Regions from separate parts of the Homo sapiens genome. Here all the other regions are linked to region 1. Evidence: fine-mapped expression QTL. A gene starts in region 1. Each other region holds a variant in brackets. All regions are shown on one strand. Distances are from middle to middle.

Region 1 (5,000 bases):
CATTATGTTCGGCCAGGAATTCCATTTTAATACCATGGTTAAACACATAGAAATGAAGTTTGTAAACATATACTAAGGCTTAGATTTGAATACAGATAGATATCCTCAGTGCAAGGACTATGGGAGCTGAAAATAATCTCACCTATTATTTTCAGGTGAGATTTGAGGTTAAATAAAAAGTGCAAAGTGAGTTTCCCTCTGGTATTGTTTGCCAATATTATCCCACTCAGTCCAATCCTAGCAAGCTCATTCAGGCTCATGAGAGAGGTAGTTGAAATCAAGAACTTACTTTTGACATCTGGAAATCTTAGTGGTGGGGGCTGGCAGATGAAGAGAGAAATATAGGTGCCTTCTACTACAGAAGTATTTCATTTATCAAAAGGTTGTGGATAGGAATAGACGGCCTCAGCCTCAGAAGGGGAGGTAGGCTGCTATGGTGAGGGTCTGGGTTCAGAAACAAACTGTATTTCACGTCCCAGTTCTATCAATTATTTGCTATAGGACTTTCAACAAATTGCCTAATCTAATCCAGCCTCATCTGTAATATGTAAGGTCCATGAGGGCAGGGACCATATCTGTGCTGTTATTATCATACATCAAGTGCTTAAGAAGCCTGGTATTCAGAGCCAAATCAAATAATTGTAGAAGGAATGTGTTAAAAAATGAGCAGCCTTTGACATTTAGAAGCTGGTCTGGTACTTGCAGCTATGCCATAATATTTTCCTATTAGACAGAAATAATTTCACAGAATACTAAACTCAGACAAGATTACTCTGAAACCATGATAAAATGAGGCAAAGAAGGTCACTTCATAATTTTGTCTAAGCACAGACCAAAATAAGTTCACTATGCCACCCACAAAATACCAAACATTCCCTTTCTTCACCAAAATGAGTGACTGCTACTTCTTTGCTAATTGCAGCTTTATCCTCCTGCTTCCCTTTGTGTAAATAAGATTTACTGAGACATCCAATCACAGAATTGCCCCTGCTTTCTGACAGCATCCAATCTATAGAAAAACCTCTATTTTCTTAGGGCCTCCCCGAAAACACCCGCCCAAAGCCCCAATCCTATGATAGGTTTGTTCTAAACACCCTCTTACTGAGATACCCAAAGGGTATCCATGGTGAGTGTCTGGGCTCACTTCGAAGAGTAATAAATAGACAGAAGCTGCTTAACTACAGCTGTGTTCCTAGTGGTGTTTGGTTGAGGGCATAGGCAGTGTGAATAGAAAAAACGGGGAGAAAAACACTGTCTCTTCAGAGTTGTGGTGGGTATTAAATGGATAATTAATTTACCAATATATATTGAGGGTCTGTTTTGTGTCAGCTGCTGTGCTAGGTGCACCAAGAAGAACAAGACCCGAATTGCTCTCCAGGGTTTTGAAACTGCTGGGCATGCAGAGTAGAAAATTTATGATCCAATTCAAAGCACTATTATAGAGGCATATACCTCGTATAAAGGTGTTATCATAGAACCATATATACAGAAGGAGCATGTAACTCCTCTGGCCCTTAGGGACCGAAGGAGTCAGAAAAGAGAGGATGTATGGTGGACAGGATAATGGCTCTGCAAAGATGTCCTATTCCCTGAAATCTGTGAATATATTACCTAACATGGCAAACGAACTTTACAGATGTGATTAAATTTCTTGAGATGGAGAGATTATTCTGGATTATTTGGTTGGGCCCAGTGAAATCACAAGTGTCCTTGTAAGAGGGGTGCGGGGGGGTGGGGGTGAGAAAAGGAGACTCTGACTGCAAAATGATGTGGGACCACAAGCCAAGGAATGTGGGCAGCGTGTAGAAGTTGGAAAGGGCCAGGGAATGGATTTTCTCCTGGAGCCTCCAGAGTCAGCCCTCACCATCTATTTAGACCTGTAGCTTCCAGAACTGGAAGAGAACAAATTTGTGTTTTCTAAGCCAACTAAATCAGTGATAATTTGTTAGAGCAGCACTAGGAAACTAATTCAGGCTTAATCTTTAGTGCCGAGTCCCGGGTAGAAGCAAAGGAAGACTATTTTCTGTGAGGACCTGCCAGTTGGTCTTCATGGCTTGCGAGTACGTGTGCTTGGGAGTAGGACAGGATATGTGGAGATCAGATCCTGAAAGGTCTTCTTTCCACACAAAGAAACTGGAAATAATGCTGAAGGTAATCAGAGGCCACTGAAGGATTAAAAGCAGGGGAGTGTGACAAAATCAGAACTGCATTTCAGAAGGATGAATTGAAGTCTACAAGTAGAGACAACAGACGAGAGGCTACTTAAGTATTCTGGGCAAGAAATGATGAGAGGCTGTCTCTGATCACCCTCTACAAAACGCCTTTGCTTATTCCTTGAAATTTGGGATGAGAGGATTTAGAAAAAAAAATGGTTGTACTCTTCAAATATTTGAAAGGCTGTCATGAGACAGATTAGACACGGTCTGTGCTGCTCCAAGTTTGAGGGATAAATCAGTCATAAGAAGATATTAAATGCACTATCCGGAAGCACATAATTAATAATTTGTCTAAAAATCGCATAGACTTCTTCACAGATAATTATGCTTTACATTTCATTCTTTCAACAAATAATCATTTGAGCAGTTAGCATGTGGCAGGCATCAGGCCTGTATATGACGGTGAACCAAACAGACAAAAGGCACTGCCCTGGATGGAGTTTCTTTGCATAAGGTACCGTTTACAGATAACTTTTATATAAAATAATCATTTAATCAAGAAGCAAGCTCACAGTCGGGATAGCTGAAAAGAGACTAATATACGGGCGAGGTTGGTTTGGAGTAAACCCTGGCCTGGGAAAATCGAGACGATAACTGAAAAGCAGTCACTGACGGCAAATGAGCCCCTGGGACTTCTCTCCGCGAGCTTTCCCAGCCACCAGGCCGCTCCCATCACCCTTCCGCCCGTCGGTGCCGCCCCTTTCCTCGTCCCCACCCCGTCCCTTTTAATACGTCACTCGGGCCGCGGGATTTCGAGCATTTCGCTCGCGAGATCTTCTCTGTGGCGGAGACAGCCAGGTTGGCAGCTGACGGGACAGCCGGGGTCTATTTTGTTGCGGGTTTTCAGCAAATCCAGGGCTGGTCTGGAGGCGCGAAGTAGGTTCCGGAGTCCGAGACCTGGGCTGTCGGCCGCGGGCCCCTGAGTAGCGGATGGGGCGGGCTCCCCGGCCTCGGGGCCGTGCTCAGTCTGCGTGAGCGCCGCGTGCCCGGAACCCGTGTGCGGTCGCGCCCCGGGGTTGGGGGTCGGCGTGGGTGGCCCTCGGGCGCCGGGACGCCGTCCGGAGACTCCTGTGGCGTGGGTCTGAGGCGCGGTGGTCCGGTGCGGTCCCTGGGCTGGTGGAGAGCGGGAGGGCCCGGGCGTCCACAATCCCGAGCTGACCTCGCCCTTGGTCGTCCAGGGTTGGAGCCCAGGTGAGATGGAGGTCAGCGGCAGAGCTGGGTGGCCCGAGGGTCTTGCAGCTGGGAAGCTCAGGAAATCCCATGGTCCTCATCTTAAAGTTCTTTTTAACGAACTTACCCAGTGGAGTTGGGTTTCCTTCTTTCCTGCTTTTTCGAAGTTCTGTGAATATATTAATTATTCAGAGAGACTGGAGGAAGACGTAAAAAGAGGAGACTAGGTAAAGTGATTTAAATCCCAACATTCTCTTTTTTTTTTTTTTTTTTTTTTTTTTTTTTAAAAGAACTTAAGGCATACAGAACGATGGAGTATATGGCAGAATCCACCGACCGCAGCCCTGGACACATGTGAGTGCGACACTTCTTCCTTCCCCCTTAAATGTGAAAATCTTCAGTGAGCCCGGGAAACTCACTATGGAGAACGCTTGAGGGTGGGTGGGAAAGAGCGTATATTGTCATAAATGGGAAAAAATAGAAGTCTTATTTCTGTAGAAAATCGAATTAGTTTCTGGTTATAAAGCTTGTTCTAGTAAATATAAGCTCTAAGAGGGTTAAAATATTTACCATACATCCTTTTAGATCGGCACTGTCCAATATGTAGCCATTAGCTACGTGTGGCTATTTAAATTTACTTTTTACTTACTTTTTTTTTTTGAGACGGAATCTCGCTCTGTTGCCCAGGCTGGAGTGCAGTAGTGTGATCTCGGCTCACTGCAACCTCCACCTCCCGGGTTCAAGCAATTCCCTGCCTCAGCCTCCCGAGTAGCTCGGATGACTTCCTGATTTTTATTGGAGATTATAATGTAGTAATTTTTAAATTTTGAACATCTTAAATCTTAGTTATCAATTTTTAATTTCTTGCATTTAAGTTCAAATTAACTTTTTTTTTTTTGCTGTTAAATAGGTTTAATGATACAGTGCTCTTCAAAGAGATTACTACAGAGACTTTTAAACGATAATCCTGGAATCGTTCAGCACAGACCAATTAGCTAAATCTAAAATAAATTGGCTTCTTACCACAACTACCCTGTAAACATTGTAGTCCTTCTGTCTAGAATGACCCTAATCTCACAGGAAAACAGTAACTATGGAGAAACTAGCTTTGTGGCCAAAAGTAAAAACCAAAGGAAAAATAGGAATTCAGTGGTTAGTGAAAGCAGGAAATTTGGCCCCCTTCCCTGTGATGCTTTACTCTTCCCTTGTCCATCAGTTAGCTCAGTGGGTTTGAATAAGCCATCTGAAAATGTCTTTGGAGCTCAGCATAGTGCTGATCTTCCTTGTTCTATCAGTAGCTTTTAACAGACACTTGTCTAAGGGCTCAAAGCCCTTCACAGAACCCTTTCTTGGAATGGGTTGTTTGACCATTATACTTCCCTCCGGACAACCAGCACTTCTGGAAGAGCCTGGTTAGCTCTGTCAGGAACTGCTTTCTTTCCAGGTGGTACCGCTGGCTCCACTCTGTCAACATAAACCCCAAGCAGTTTAAGTTGGAAGTTTCCTAAATTAATTTAAATGGAATAAAATTAAATACTTGGTTGCTCGTTTGTACTAGCCATGTTGCCACATGTGGCTAGTGGCTACCATTGGACATGGAAGATTATTGAACTT
Region 2 (10,582 bases), 140 kb before region 1:
ATGAAGAAAAGGCAGTTGTTACCACTTTTCACCATTCAAAAAATGGGCTTGTCTCTTAGAGTATTGGTTAATGCTTTGCTTATTTGTTAATGAAGACAGCATTTTAATTTTAAAGCTTCCTTTTGTAGGACTGATGGCACGGGCAGAATCACATTTAAGAAAAATGGTTTGGAACACTTTTTAATAAAAAATTGTAAAATCAGTTTCCAGTGTGGTCAAAATTAGAATGTAAAGGAAAGCATTTTTAAGAAAATACAGAAGCCCAAATCAAGGGAGAGTAATATAAAAGGAAATATTTTAAATTAAGAAAAGGAGGTGTTATAGTTTATTACATCATGAATTATGCTTTCTGTACTTACGCTCTTAGTGAAGGAGATAACATTGAAGTGAGAAAATGAACATTCTCAGTTATTTGCGAAGTTAGTAAAATTGCAGTCCCTATTCCATTTTTTTCTGATGAAAATGGATACATGAGATCTCATTTATTGCTCTCCTCAACACCTTTACTGTCCCAGATTCCATTCACGTTCCAAATCGTGGACAGTAAAACTGAAGTCAGATAAACACAGTCACAGGTACAACTGGGAGCGAGTTTTAACATAGTGGTAATTTTGCAAATGCCAACATGAATACTAGTGAGTACTCAATTTACGACAGACAATTTCACAAAAACCAACCACAGAGTGATTTGATATTCTTGCTTCTTAGAGAGTTTTCTAATCCATATAATGCAATGGGTCAGGTTGCTCATATGATTAAAAAAATTAATCCTGTAGAAATGATGTATTAGACATCTCTAACCCAAGAAAAAGATGTCTTTTGTATAACTTTTAAATTCCCATTTGTCTATCTTAGGACAAATGATGACTTCTTCGTGTAGTAATGAAAACGTCTAAATCCTGCTCTGTGGAGAAAAGCTAGAACCATGGGACATTAAGCAAGAATACTCCTCTGATTTAGGCTCCCAGACTACAACTAACAGTCTTTATGTATTTATCATCTTGGTTATTGTTTTATCTCAAGCATATACAGTGTGCAGAAAGTAGAATAATGAATAAAATATGACCATGGAGAAAACCCATAACTTTTGCTTCTATTATAGAAAGCAGTGTTTGTTCTTTTTAATTTATTACATGTTCACATTGAAACATTAACATCTACAATATTGTCTTTCAGTTTACTCTTCAATTACTAAAGCAAATGATTTTGATTTATAGCACTTACACAACTGCAGTTCAGGTCACAGAATTGAAATCTATTTGATAATGTCTCAGCATTCTCATGGGCAGCCAGGAAAAAAAAAAAGAGAGAGAAAGACAAATAGAAATTTTAGTGGGTTCAGATAAATGATTATTCTGACAAACCTGGAAAATAGTAATTAAACAGTTCATTCCAAAAGACCCCAATGTAAACTCTGCTCACATACATAATTTGTATAAGGAAAATGTATGAGTTTTTTTCTTAAAAATAAATAGAAGCATCATTGCATTTATAACAGATTGATCAATCTTATGAACAGATTACATTGGGAAAGTCACTATTATTGCTGTGTGTTTGTATATTTTATTCTTTCCTTTTTTGTGTGAGCATCTACTATGTGCCAGGCAGTGACTGTGTCTGAGTGAATGTATCCATGGTGAGCACTCAGGCGCCATCACTGCCTTCTTGGGGCTTACACCCTATTGGGGTGTCAGAGATATTATAACACTCAATATTGACCCAATGGGATGAAAATTGTTATCTTCATGATTTCTTCCAATGGGCTTAGATTTGTTGGGACAGGGCAGAATTAGAATAATTATTTCTCACATATAAGAGTAAGTGATATGAGATTGGGAATTTCTTGCCAACACTCAAGCAAACTGCAGAAGATAATTACTCCATTTTACTAGCTCACCTAGTTTCTGAAGGATGGGGTGGGGAGTGAGACATGGAGCCTCTGGGGACAAGGATAGGGGGGTGGGACTGTCCCAGTGGAGGGTGCCACTGGAAGCCTCCACCCAAGTGGGCCAGCAGCTGTGCAAGGGTGCAGCAGTAGGCTGGTGAAAGCCAGGTTGTCCAGATCTTTCTAGGGGAAGAGAAGGATTATAGAAAAGGAGAAAAGGGAGGAGCAAGAACATCTCTCCATGGCCTATTTTTATTTTTGTTCCCAAGAGACTAGTGTAATAACCTTATGCCCCCAAAGACAGCCCAGAACTGAGTATCTTCAGTGTTCCTGAGTGTAAATCAGTGAATCTGTTATATAGAAAGTTAACATTTCAGGAGCACAATTATTTCCTGATTTCAAATATGAACAGAAGACTAAATGTCATTTTTTTAAATCATAAATTTGGTATCCATAGTTACTTTACACATTCCAGAGTCTAAGCATGGAATTTAAGTTTTGTATTTTGAACAAAAATAGCAACATCTGTTTTCTGTATGGCAAAGAAAAACTAAATCCCAGACTTTTATTTTTAACCACAGAAACCATCACTTCTTTCTAAATTATTTGCTTGCCTGCTCATTTCCCCTAAACATCTCTGTTTATGCCAATGGCTTTTTAAATCCAAATAATACTAGTTATTGCCAAATTGCATTAGAATCCTATTGAATTAGAATAATTCATATACTTCATATACTAGGCAGTAAATGGTTAGAGACGGTAAAGATCTGATTGTGATCAAAAGTAGGGTTTTTGTTTTGTTTTTAATCATGAGCACATATAAAAGGAAATTCAAATGAAACCAAGCCAATTTCTGATTTAGTAAGATTAAAACCATAGATGGAGCTCAGTTATTAAGGATGGAAAGGAGGAAAGCACAGAGTGAGGAGAGAAAAAGGGGAAGGAAAAAAAGTAGTGTTTTTTTGGGGAACAGTATAATGTCTCAGAAGTTCTTCTCTCTTATCCTGCTGATGTTGAGACAGTGGCTTTGTATAAGCTTTTATTTATACCTATTTCAACATCATGAAAATTTTTCCATCAGCATTTTCTTGCAACTTTAAAAATCACAAGGGATTATTTGTTTATAAAGAGATACAGGATCTATAATTTATTGGCAATACTTTATTTTAGGAATCTTCAAATTGTACTTAATAAATAAATCACAGGTCAAAATGACTGTAAAATCAATCAGGCTTTCTCGTAAGTTATTTCCTGAAAACCATCCATGATAAATACAACAAGGCTTGGCGAAACCTCATTACTCTTGGAAGTCTTCAGAGGTTATTATACCTACTGATCTGTATTTGTCTCTAAGAGACATTTGAAACACAGTTACAATGTCAATTTGGTGTAACATTACCTGTAGTAGAGCTCAGAGTATATGGCAGTGCACGGTCACTCAAGATGCATGGCGTGTCATTTGGGTCGCTTTGATGGGTGCTCGGGTAGAATTAGCCTTGTAGAGACTAATGTGTTCATGCTATCTCTGATCCTGTGGTGTTGTATAAAAATGAACAGCTAAAAATTTACCCATGACAAGATTAAAGCAAAAATAAACACAAAGTTGTTAGACTTTAAACATGAGACTGCTGGTATTCTTTTAAGTTAAACTCATTTTCCATTCTAACATCTGTTCTTGAATTTTATAATTTCTCTATGCTTTTGAGTTGGAGTAGCTTGAGCTAGGGTTCTATGTGGAAAGCAAAGAAACAATTCATGGGTAGAGGATAAGACCAAAGCCTAACAGAAGCAAGAGGCAGGAGGTTTTGAGACTTTGGTGCTTTCATTTGGAATGGGAATAAGCCTGGCTCTGGTTCAAAACAAGGCAATTTATAAACATATATACAATGTATGCAACAAAAAATGTTTATTGTAAACCTAACACAACTTTTACCCAGCTTTATAGTAACACATCGACAAAGTTTATATAGTAATTACTATAAGGTAACAAGGGTTACATTATACACAGATGTAGGCTCCAGCAACACAGCATGATGCACCTCTGAGAAAAGTGTTCAGAACAGAATATCCATCTGCAAAGGTTTTCACTCAATGCAGGAAGAAATACTGTAAAATTTGGAGACAGAATGAAATAGAGGTAAACTCTCTCCAGGATTCTAGACTCTGAAGAGTGGGTAGTACTCATGGCTTAGGCCATATTGTAGTAACACGGTGACTTGGACTAACCATGTAGATGGAGTTCGTGGATTAGACAATTCTCAGAATTTTCTAGAAAAAGTTGGGGCCAGACATAGTGGCTCTCACCTGTAATACCTATACTTTGGGAGGCCAAAGCAGAAGGATCACTTGAGCTCAGGAGTTTGAGACCAGCCTGGTCAACACAGTGAGACCCCATCTCTTAAAAAGAATAATTTTTTTTAAAAAAAAAGGGGAAAGAAAAGGAGTTTGTTACGCAGACGAAACAATTGCCTACTCTACCTGCTTTCAAATTCAAGTCTGATAAATATAAAAGTTCATTTCTACCTATAAAATGCTTTTTTAAAAAATTATCTTGTTTATATGCTAAGGTTCACTAAAGGAGAAAAAAAAGGAAGTGCAAAAGTTTTAAAGGTACATATAAAAAGGGATTCACTACAAAAGTGAAGTTAAATTTCTCTCCTAATCCTACTATTCATTGAGCTATGAGATAGAGTGAACTATCACTTGATTTGTGAACACCAAATTAACCTCTACCTATAGTTTTTCAACTGTTCTTCTCCTGAAACCGTGAAAGACTTTTTAAAATAAATCAATCACAGCAGCCTTGAGGGATGGGAGAACTGCAAGATCTGTGTCCAGAGAAACAGTCATTGCAATGTGAATTTACCAGAAGTCAGAAATTTTCCACCTTTTCATTTGTGAAGAGGGCAGAGTGAATGTTGTTAACATCAGGCCCAGAACCTACTTTGTGCCAGGTTCATAAAGTAAACCTTCCCTGATGCTGTTCAGTGAGTAAGCAGTAAAAGGCAAGCAAATGTGACCCTGTCCTCTCTCCTCGTTCAAATGGGAAGACCTGGCTCCATATTGTGATGGCTTCATTAGTGAGAGATGTGTACACTCTTCAGGTTTGTAACCAGGATGCTGTGCCCCTTTCCGTGCTCCCAGCAGATAGGAATTCAGACTCTGCTGCCTGAAATGGAAGGTAATCACCTATTGAGGAGCAAGGAAGAGAGGAACAGAAGGCATTTTTTAATTTCCGCTATCCCCAATCCATCAGTGTGGGCTGCTCACTCAGGCTGGGATCCATTCTCCAACAAGATGCATCCCAGAGCATGGAGCTCCTGTGTCACGGACAAGCTGCTTTCTATCTGCCTCATAGGAAATTGGGTTTATCTCTTCACTTCGGCCCCGCTCATCATTGGCGCTGACCCTCAGGAAGAGGAAAACTGTTTCGTATGTTCCTAAACTTTGGATGCCCTCAGCTGTAACAGACCACTGCACCCACCATGGTGGTGAACTCACATATGCAGGGGCAAGAAGTCTGTGGTCACAGGGTTGGTTCAGTGGCTCAATGATGCCATCAAGAGCCAGGGTCTCCACCTCAGCCACTGCCCTGGCCTTTAGGCTGTTCTCATGGGACCCACACGGTTGCTTCAGATACTATCATTGCAGACACAACATCTGGCCAAAGAAAAGAATTTCTCCTTTGTCTTTATTAGAAAGGAATACCCCCAGAAGCCCACCAGCAGACATCGCCTGGGGTCCCACTGGCTGGGATTGGTTCACATGTCAAAGCATGAGGGGCAACAAAGGCTGGTAAAGGGCAGTGGCAGCCTGAGCAACATAGTAAGCCCCATCTCTACAAAGTTTTTGAATAATTAGCCAGGTGTGGTGGCACACGCCTGTAGTCCCAGATACTTGGGGGGTGCTGAGGTGGATCACTTGGACCCAAAAGCTCGAGGCTGTAGTAAAGCTATGATCGTGCCACTGTATTCCAGCCTGAGCGACAGAGCGAGACCGTCTTAAACAACAAAAGTGACTGAGGATGGGAGGCAGCCCCTGCCTGCACAGAAGAAAGCGGGATGGTGGGCACGTGAGGCTGGGGGCTTACCGGCAAACACAGCATTTGGCCTGCACCGCAGCAGCCTTTGCTCATAACATTTTGATGCCACTTTTTACCTTTACCTAAATTTGTTAATGTATTTGTTAAAACATCTGTGTTATAAAAATGATTTATCCTCATTGTTGAGAATGTAATAAAAGGTACTTTTAAAGTAGGAAGAAATCTTTTGAGAGGCATTTTCTGTTCAAATTTTGTTATATTTTCATCCTGTTTCTGTAGTTTGTACATATGTTGCAAGAGAGGGAAGAGTGGCATTTAGAACCATCACAGCAGCTGCTGCAACCTTTTAAAAGAATGACAAAATTTATCTTTAGAGAAGTTGATTTCCTTTTATCTGGGAAATGCCTTGAATGAGTTTTTTTGGGGGGAGTGTGGGGGGGGAGAAATGTTAAGCAGCATTCACCCCTGCCTTGCTTCCCACATGGTCTGAAAGGAGAAAGTGAAACAGAAAGAGGGCTAAGTGGAAAGGAGTTTTGGAAATTACTCGTTGATAACCTCAAGCAGGGGTAAGGCCCGGCATGTATAGAGGAGTGGCCAGATGTGAGGAGAGAAGTCTTGGCCCCGGGGCCACAGACAATGGGAAATTTCCTTGGTGAGAAATGTTTTAATTATCGTAAGAAAGCATCCCCAAAGTTGGCAGCATTAGGCAAAAATTATTTCTTACATTTCTGGTTTACAGGGCCTAAATTGGGGTCTGTTGCAGAGTTGTCTGGCATTGTCTGAAGGCTCCCTCTCCCTTTCAGACACTGAGTGTGGCAGCTTACAGTACGACTGCACTCAGTTTTTCATTCCCCATTCTGTGGAACAATACATTCCTGCATGCTGCAACATCACTTGCAGTTACTTCCTGCAAGAGAAATATACTTCCCCACCTCAGTGACACTGGGCTTGGCAAGGGATTCATCTCAGCCAGTGGATGTATTAATATATGCCACTGTGCTTCCACCAGCTTTTTAATTTCCTTCTATAAGAACAGCATGTTCCAAACGGGCTGCCCATCAGCCTGGATCCTGGAATGAAAAAGACATAGAGCAGGGTTGCAGCCAACCACTGCCATGCAACTGAGTGAAAACATTGGTTGTCATCAAGTCTGAGATTTGGGCGTTACTGTAGCATTTGTGACCCTTAGCAAAGCTAACTAATGTGCTAAAAGTCACAAACTCAACACCTGCAGACAAGGAAAGCAAGTGAGGCAGAGGGTGTGTGAAACTATGGGGATGGCAGGGCTAAGGCAGATGGGACCAAATCAGCCCAAGGATAAGCTCCAGTATTAAACGTTGTTATATGAGTTAAAATTTTTAAAGCTGCTGATTTGGTTAAACACCAGGTCATGATTTTAATAACACAGCTAATATTTACTTCCTGAAAGCTTAATATAGTTGAAAACAAAAAATATAATGACCCAATCTCTTAATGTTTTCCTAATCATTTAACTTTGTAGGTTCTTTTAGGCACCAATCTTCAGTTCAAAAGAAACAATCTTCTGAAACTTGTTTGTTTTTTTTTTGTTTTTTGGTCTTTTCTAAAAGTGAAAGGGAATTATTTTTTATGTTAAAAGTTCTCTCTAGAAATGTTTTGAGTTAGCTTCCCAAACATCGATATACAGAAATGTGGCACTTAGCAATGGAGATACATTCTGAGAAATAGGTGATTTTGTCGTTGTGCAAACATTAGAGTGTACTTACACAAACGTAGATGGCATAGCCTACTATACACCTAGGCTACATGGTAGAGCCTATCGCTTCTAGGCTATAAACCTGTACAGAATGTTACTGTACTGAATACTTACTGTTGGAAACTGTCACACAATGGTACTGGTGTATCTAAAATAGAAAAAGCACAGTAAAAAAAACCAAACAGTATAAAAGATAAAAAATAGTACACCTGTATAGGGAGGGCACTTACCATTAATAGAGCTTGCAGGGGTGGAAGTTGCTCTGTGTGAGTCACT[A/G]AGTGAGTGGTGGGTGAATGTGAAGGCCTCAAACATTACTGTGCACTACTGTAGACTTTACAAACATGGCACATTTAAAGTAGGCCACACTAAATTCATTTAACAATTTTCTTTCTTCAGTAATTAACCTTAACTCACCGTAACTTAACTTTACAAACTTTCAAACTTTGACTCTTTTGTCAAAGTTTTTTGACACTTAGCTTAAATTTAAAACACAAACATCTTGTAAAACTGCACAAAAATATCTTTATATCCTTATTCTGTAAGTTTTTTCCTATTTTAAACTTTATTTTTCTACTTTTTAAACTTTGTTAAAAACTTAAGACACAAACACACACATTAGCCTAGGCCCACAGGGTCAGGATCATCAGTATCACTGTCTTCTATCACCACATCTTGTCTCACTGGAAGGTCTTCAGGAGAAATAGCATGAATGGAGCTGTCATCTCCTATGATAACAATGCTTTCTTCTGGAATACCTCCTGAAGGACCTGCCCAAGGCTCTATTAAACATTTTTTTAATAAGTAGGAATAGAACACTCTAATTATAAAAAGTAAATACACAAACCGGTGTCATTTATTGTCATTATCAGTATTACATACTGTACATAACTGAATGTGCTGTACTTTTATACAACTGGCAGTGTAGTAGGTTTGTTTACACCAGCATCTCCACAGACACGTGAGTAATGCACTAGGCTATGACATTAAAACGGCTAAAACATCATGAGGCAATAGATTTTCTGCTCCATTATAATTTTATGGGACCACTATTGTATATGTCATTATGCAGTACATAACTGTAATCTTCTGCAAAACCAGTCAAATCTAACCATGCCACAAAAATAACTACCACCATCTGTCTTAAAGAACGTGACTCCTATATGGATGGAGATTAACAAGGGCATAGATCGATTCTATAGAATATTTCATTTAATTGATTTTATTATAACTGGATTAGGTCTGAGCCCTGGGAAACAGACATCACCTTGTTATACAGAATCACACATTATAGTTTTAACTGAAGTTGTTTTTCATATAGGACAATCATAAATATGAGTATTACAAGAGCTGACTACATACTTTCAAGTTTATATTTCCTGACAAAGGATATGACCTTTTTCCATCCTGTAATTCAGAGAAAAAGAACCACTTGCCCTATATAAACTCTAAAAAGAAAACTGCATAAACCCAGGAACAGGGGGCAAGGAGTGCTCCCCTTTGACCTACTATTAGCAGGTCCAACAAATGATATATCACCACGTCTATGAAGAAATTTCTTTCTATAAAAGCACAAAATTTAAATCGGATTTGACTTTACATATTAGGGCTTTCATCTTGATGAGAAACTCATAACAGCAGCAGCTCAAACTGATTGTTAAAAGGAAAAAACACAGGGCAGATTAATAATGCAACTTGGATCTTCACTCTTCTCTTTCCAATTCAAATGCTGGAATATGACACTCTTTTTATAATATTCTGCCCATGAGGTTCTCTCCCTTCTTTTCTGCCTTCAGAGTCCTTTCCAAAAGGAAATTACTGCCTTGCATTCTACATTATTCCTAATTTCCAGGTGGAAAAATGAGACAAATTAAGTGACTTCTAAAAACACTAGGAACTGTATTTTTTAAAAACAAGACAATACTTCAGATTTTCTTGCTTTAATTCTTCTCTATATTACCACAGTAAAATATTTAACAAAGTCCAAGAGATTACTGATATGCAATAATGACCTATGACTTTACATTAATGGAGTGATGTATCAATAATAAACTGATCAGTTAAGTAACTGGAAAATGTTTGCATGTAAAGAATGATTCACTATCCTTTTTATCTTGTATTGAAATCGTCAAAACATTTAAAAACACAAAGTTGAAGTAATTTTAAATAATAATAACTGTGAAATACTGCAACATCTTGAAGTACTTTATAAATGACCAAAAACAGGTAAAATTTTGTTCAGTATAACTTCAGTGAAGAAGTTTTTTGACACAGAACTACATATATTTTTAAATTGGTAATCCACATAAGATATACACAAAACCTTCAAGTGACTACATTGTTCAATAAATAAAACTCTACATTGTTTTGTTTTTACAGCCTAGTGAGCTTATAACTCAGTAACACCCTTTTAAGAAATTCTAGTCTACAGAATGACATGTCCAAATTGTTTGGTCCTATTAATTTCTTTAGCAAAAACCTCCAATTCCTTTATATTTAATTCCTCCACATATCATCTTTGAAGGGCCTGACTAATAAATCACAAGTGTAACCCTCCAGTCTCCAGTCTGGGTTTTTCATGAGTTTCAGTTCAGTGTAAGCCAGCACACTGACCTCCCCATGAATTTTCCACAGTACCTACTTTATTTAACACTTTCCACAAAGTATCCTGTCCTTCTAGGCTTTTTGTAGAATGTGAAGTTAATAATGGCATGTGGTGTTCCTTAGCATGACCTGCCAAAAAGTGATGATCTCCTTGGAAGAAAAGCCATGGGCTGCAATCACACGTCTCAGTTGACAGACATCCAAATGGATTCTATATAGAAAGAAAAGATTTGTGTCTTCTGGAATATGAATGTTCACTTTTAATAAATTCAAACAGATCCCGACATAAACATCTTCAAACTTGATGGGTTTTACGTGA
Region 3 (5,696 bases), 99 kb after region 1:
TCCAGAGTAGCTGGGACTACAGGTGCGCACCACTGAGCCCAACTAATCTTTTGTTATTGATCTTTGTAGATAAGGATAATTTTTTTTCAAAACAATTATGTAATCTTCCTAATTTTTTCCTTTAAAAATCTTTGTCTTCCTTTACCTCCCTGAATATACACATAGTTTACTATGGCAGACGTATTCCCATTGCAATTCTCTATTCTCAAATAAACATCATTTTTTCTAATAGAGCCTCTCTTAATTTGTTATTTAGGTTGACATTCTGAATCTTTCAACATTCATTCATTCAACTTTTTTTACACCAGGCACTGTTTCAAGAGCAGTGAACAAATAGATAAAATTAGAACAAATGCCCTCATGAAGCTTACATTTTAGTGAATATCAAAACGTATGAGATTCTTACGTCAGACATTATTCTAAATGCTTGGTATGTTTTCTTCTCACAACAACCCCTTGAGTTAGATACTATATTCCCAGCTTACAAATGAAGAAAGTGAGACAGAGAAAGAAGATATAATTTGCTGATCTCACAGCTAGTAAGTAGCAGGGCTGGAATTAGAACCCAGATAAACCAGCTTCATTTATTTTAACTGCTATGGTACTCTTGCTAAACTTTTAGGCAGGGTTTTGGGAGGGTGGCAAGACACTAGAGTTGCGAAGGCTGCTTGCGGCAGTTTTACAGAGAACTTCATGCCCCAGATAGGTCAGGGTAGGAGTGGAAAGACCCTGAAATTCCAGGGTCCTCCACTGTGGATGATAAATGTCTCAGAGGCAGCCTACCTTTCCCTGAATGTCTTCCACTGCCTGAGTCTGAGACAGCAGCTTGACCAGAGGGGAAGAGCCCTGAGGTCTGAGGTTGTGTTTCCTCCCTGCTTAGCAGGATGTGCACTCAAAATAGAAATTAGACTGTGTTAAAATAATAGAGATAATAAAATAGAAAGAATTGTTAAAGTAAGATGAAATTGCGGGGCACAGTGACACATACCTGTAGTTCCAGCTCCTCAGGAGGCAGAGGCAGGAGGAACACTTGAGCCCAGAAGTTTGAGTCCAGCCAGGGCAACATAGTGTGAGACCCCACGTCTCTTAAAAAAAAAAAAAAAAAAGATAAAACAGAATAATTTCTTTTTTCAACTCTGAGTTTGCTGATTAAGATCCTCCGGGAAGCATGGGATTAGAGAGCTATGTGTGGATAGTCCCAATCTCAATCTCACATTTCTCCCTCTAGTATTATGGCATTGTTAAAGGAGGATCTAGGATTTCAATGTTGCTAAAGATGAAAGCTTAATCAAATAAGACTATTAACTCCTTTTTACAGAGAAATTAGTTTGAATTTACATGACTGTGGCAGACTATGTAACTGTCAACATGTCACTAAAAAATACATGTACACTCTATGGATGTGGACCAAGATGGTGGACTAGAAAGCTCCACTAATTTCTCCCCCTGCAAGGATACCTAATTAACAACTATCTGCATGGAAAAATCACTTTAATGAGAACCAAAAATTAGATGAGCACTCGCAGTACCTAGTTTTAACCTCATGTCTCTGAAAGAGGCACTGAAGAGGTAGAAAAAACAGCCTTGAATTGCCAACACCTGGCCTGCCCCATCTCCTAGCAGTGGTGGCATGGTACTGAGAGCCTTTCTGTGAGCTAGGGAAAGGGGAACACAGAAATTGTGAGGCACTAAACTCAGTCTTGCTCTGTTATAGCAGAAAGAAAAACTGTACCAAACTCAGCTGATGCCTGCCCATGGAGGAAGCATTTAAATCAGCCATAGCCAGAGGGGAATCACTGATCCCAGTGGCTAGAACTTGAGTTCCACAAGCCCCACCACTGTGGGCTAAAGTGTTCTGTGGCTCTACATAAGCTTGAAAGGCAGTCTAGGACACGAGGACTGCAACACCTAGGGAAGTCCTAGGACTGAACTGAGCCCAGGTCAGTGGACTGGGCGGGGGAAGTGGGG[TG/T]GGGGGGGGGGCATGTGACATACTGAGATACCAGCTGGAACAGCCAAAAGAGTGCTGGCATCACCCTTCCCCTAAACCCACGCTGCACAACTTGCAGCTCCAAAATAAACACCTTTCTTCCACTTGAGGAGAGGAGTGGGAAGAGTGAGGAAGACTTGCATCTTGGATGCCAGCTCAGCCACAGCAGGATAGGGCACCAGTTAGAGGTGTGAGGTCCCCTTTCCAGGCCCTAGCTGCCTGATGACATTTCTAGACACACCCTGGGCCAGAAGGGAATCCACTGCCTTGAAGGGAAGGACTCAGCCATGGCAGGATTCACCACCTGCTAACTGAAGAGCCTATGGGCCCTGAATAACCAGCAGCAATGCTCAGGTAATATTAATACATCCAGGGCCTTGAGTGAGCCTCTGAGACTTGCTGACTTCAGGTGATACTCAGCACATTCCCAACTGTGGTGCCTATTGGGTGAGACTCCTTCTGCTTGAGAAAATAGAAGGAAATGTAAAGGGGACTTTGCCTTGCACTTTGAATACCAGTTTGGCCACAGCAGGGTAGAGTACCCAGAGGGGTCTTGAGGTCCCTGATTCTAGGATTTGCCTATTGGATGGCATTTCTGGACCTGCCCTGGGCAGAGGGGAGCCCGCTACCCTGAAGGGTGAGGCTGATGCCAGGCAGCATTCACCACAAGCTGACTGAAGAGCCCTTGGGCCTTAAGGAAACATCAGTGGCAATCTGGCTGTACTCTCTGTGGGCCTGTGGTAGTAGTAGCTATGAGGTAAGGCTCGTCTGCCTTTGCAAAGGAGAAGGAAAAGTGGGAAGAACTGTGTCTTGTGGTTTGAGTGCCAGCTTAGCTGCAGTACAATAGAACACCAGTTATATTTCTAAGGTTTTTGACTGTGGTCCCTGGCTCCTGGATGGCACATCTGGACCTTCTCAGGGACTACGGGAACTTACTGCCCTGAAGGGAAGGATACAGGCTTGGCAGCCTTTGCCATTATGGATTGTAGAGCCCAAGGGCCTTGAGTGAACATAGACAGTAACCAGGGAGTGGCTAGAGTAGGCCTTGAGTGAAACACAATGCTGTGCTGCTTAAAGTCTGATGAGGCACAGTTTTAATGGTGGTGGCCACAAGGGTGCCTGTGACATGTCACCTCCAGTTCCAAGTGGATCAGAACAGAGAGAGACCCAGTGTCTTTGGGAGAAAGTAAGAGAAAAGAGCAAGAGTCTCTGCCTGATGATCCAGAAAATTATTCTGGATCTTTTCTAAGACCAGCAAGTTGGTACCTCGACAAATCTGCAAGAACCACAGCCTTACTGGGCTTGGGGTGCCCCCTAAAACAGATACAGCTTAGTTCACAACACCCAAGTCCTTTCAAATATCTGGAAAGCCTTCCCAAGAAGGATGGGTACAAACAAGCCCAGGCTGTGAAGACTACAATAAACACCTAATTCTTCAATACCCAGCCACAGATGGACATCTACAAGTATCAAAACCATCCAGGAAAACATGGCCTCACCAAATGAACTAAATAAAGCATCAGGGAACCAGTCCTGGAGTAACAGATATATGACCCTTCAGATAGAGAATTCAAAATAGCTGCGTTGAGAAAACTCAAAGAAATTCAAGATAACATAGAGAAGGAATTTAGAATTTTATTAGATAAGTTTAACAAAAATATTGAAATAATTAAAAAGAATCAGGCAGAAATTCTGGAGTTGAAAAATGCATTGGGCATACTGAAGAATGCATCAGAATCCTTTAATAACATAATTTGTCAAGCAGAAGAAAGAATTTGTGAGCTTGAAGACATGCTAAATAAAAATACACAGACTGAGGAGGCAAAAGAAAAAAGATTAACAAACAATAAAGCACACCTACAAGATCTAGAAAATGGCCTTAAAACAAAATCTAAGAATTATCTCCTTAAAGAGGAGGTAGAGAAAGAGATAAGGGTAGCAATTTTCTTCAAAGGGATAATAACAGATAACTTCCCAAACCTAGATAAAGATACCAATATCCAAGTACAAGAAGGTTATAGAACACCAAGTAGATTTAACCCAGAGAAGACTACCTCAAGGCTTTTAATAATCAAACTCCCGAAAGGTCAAGGACAAAGAAAGGAGGCAGCAAGAGAAAAGAAACAAATAACATACAAGGAGCTCCAATACGTCTGGCAACAGACTTTTTAGTGGAAACCTTAAAGGATAGGAGAGAGTGATATGACTTATTTAAAGTGCTGAAGGTATAAAAATTTTTCTGTAGAATACTATATCCAGTAAAAATATCCTTCAAACATGAAGAAATACAGATTTTCCCAGACAAACAAAAGCTGTGGGATTTCATCAATACCAAATCTGTCTAACAAGAAATGCTAAAGGGAGCACTGGAATCAAAGAAAAGGATGTTAATGAGCAATAAGAAATCACCGGAAGGTACAAAACTCACTGGTAATTGTAAGTACAAAGAAAAACACAGAATATTATAACACTGTAACTGTGGTATAAACTACCCTTATCTTAAGTAGAAAGGCTAAACAGCTAATCAATCAAAAATAATAACTAAAATAACTTTTCAGAACATAGTACAATAAGATACAAATAGAAACAACAAAAAGTTAAAAAGTGGGGGAATAAAGTTATAGCATATAGCTTTTATTAGCTTTCTTTTTGCTTGCTTGTTTATGCAAACAGTATGTTATCAGGTTTAAAAAATGGGTTATAAGACAGTATTTGCAAGCCTCACGGTAAACTCAAGCCAGAAAACACACAAAGAATACACAAAAAAATTAAAAAGCAAAAGAAACTAAATTATGTAGCCAGAGAAAATCACCTTCGCTAAAAGGAAAACAGAAAGAAAAAGAAAGAAGGAAGAGAAGATCACAAAACAATGAGAATATAAACAACAAAATGGCAGGATAAGTCCTTACTTATCAACAACAATATTGAATGCAAATGGACTAAACTCTCCAATCAAAAGACATGGAGTGGCCGAATGGATAAAAAACATCAACAGCAACAACAACAACAAACAACCACCACCAAAAAATAAGACCCAATTACCTGTTGCCTTCAAGAAATACACATCACCTATAAAGACACACAGACTGAAAACAAAGGGATGGAAAGAGATATTCCATGCCAGTGGAAACCAAAAAACAGCAGAAGTAGCTATACTTATATCAGACAAAATAGATTTAAAGAGAAAAACTATAAGAGGCAAAGAAGGTTACTATATTATGATAAAGGGGTTAATTCAGCAAGAAGATATAACAATTATATATGCACCCAACACTGGATCACCCAGGTATATAAAGCAAATTTTATTAGAGCTAAAGAGAGAGATAGACCCTAATACAATAATAACTTGAGACTTCAATACCCCACTTTCAGCACTGGACTGATCTGCATACAGAAAATCAACAAAGAAACATTGGACTTAATCTGTACTATAGACATAATTGATATTTATAGGACATTTTATCCAGTGGCTACAGAATACACATTATTTTCCTCAGCACATGGCACATGCTTCTCTTCAGGAGATGTAACTACTCTTGACTCCAAGTAAGTGTTTCAATAACACCCTGTGCAGATTTCAAGCACTAAATTTAATTCATGTTATTGTCATTATCTATATGTCTATTTACCAAACCGGATATTGGCCTTTTCATGTCATTTTAGTATCTTCTGTCTTTGTATCCACACAGTAAGTGTAGTGTCTGAGGTG

Alleles and levels. Alleles are on the strand shown, and positions count from the first base shown. SD is a standard deviation of normalised expression in the study named. Not every link is listed here.
For the expression in iPS cells of the gene that starts at base 2,994 in region 1, TG is the high allele of the variant in region 3 and T is the other (large effect, 0.90 SD a copy in iPSCORE).

What was found. PIP is the estimated chance that this variant, and not a neighbour inherited with it, causes the effect.
Region 2: its variant is the best candidate, but not a certain one, in a credible set for the expression of NMD3 in tibial artery (GTEx, PIP 0.61).
Region 3: its variant is the best candidate, but not a certain one, in a credible set for the expression of NMD3 in iPS cells (iPSCORE, PIP 0.57).

What each region holds. Positions count from the first base shown.
Region 1 is chr3:161,218,318-161,223,317 of GRCh38, forward strand. NMD3 (NMD3 ribosome export adaptor) reads left to right here and starts at 2,994. Exons shown (of 16, transcript NM_015938.5): 1 at 2,994-3,092; 2 at 3,677-3,740. The coding sequence starts at 3,697. It also overlaps the pseudogene SRP14P5. RefSeq lists enhancers at 2,567-2,676, 2,736-3,237 and a silencer at 3,157-3,356.
Region 2 is chr3:161,075,400-161,085,981 of GRCh38, forward strand. It overlaps B3GALNT1 (beta-1,3-N-acetylgalactosaminyltransferase 1 (Globoside blood group)), which reads right to left. Exons shown (of 5, transcript NM_003781.4): 5 at 8,484-10,582. The coding sequence ends at 10,360. PPM1L (protein phosphatase, Mg2+/Mn2+ dependent 1L) reads left to right here. Exons shown (of 4, transcript NM_139245.4): 4 at 1-3,503. Among named protein-coding and RNA genes, the nearest start is that of B3GALNT1, 25 kb to the right of the region's middle. The variant A/G (reference allele first, on the strand shown) is at 7,939.
Region 3 is chr3:161,317,318-161,323,013 of GRCh38, forward strand. No RefSeq gene overlaps it. Among named protein-coding and RNA genes, the nearest start is that of SPTSSB, 51 kb to the right of the region's middle. The variant TG/T (reference allele first, on the strand shown) is at 1,969.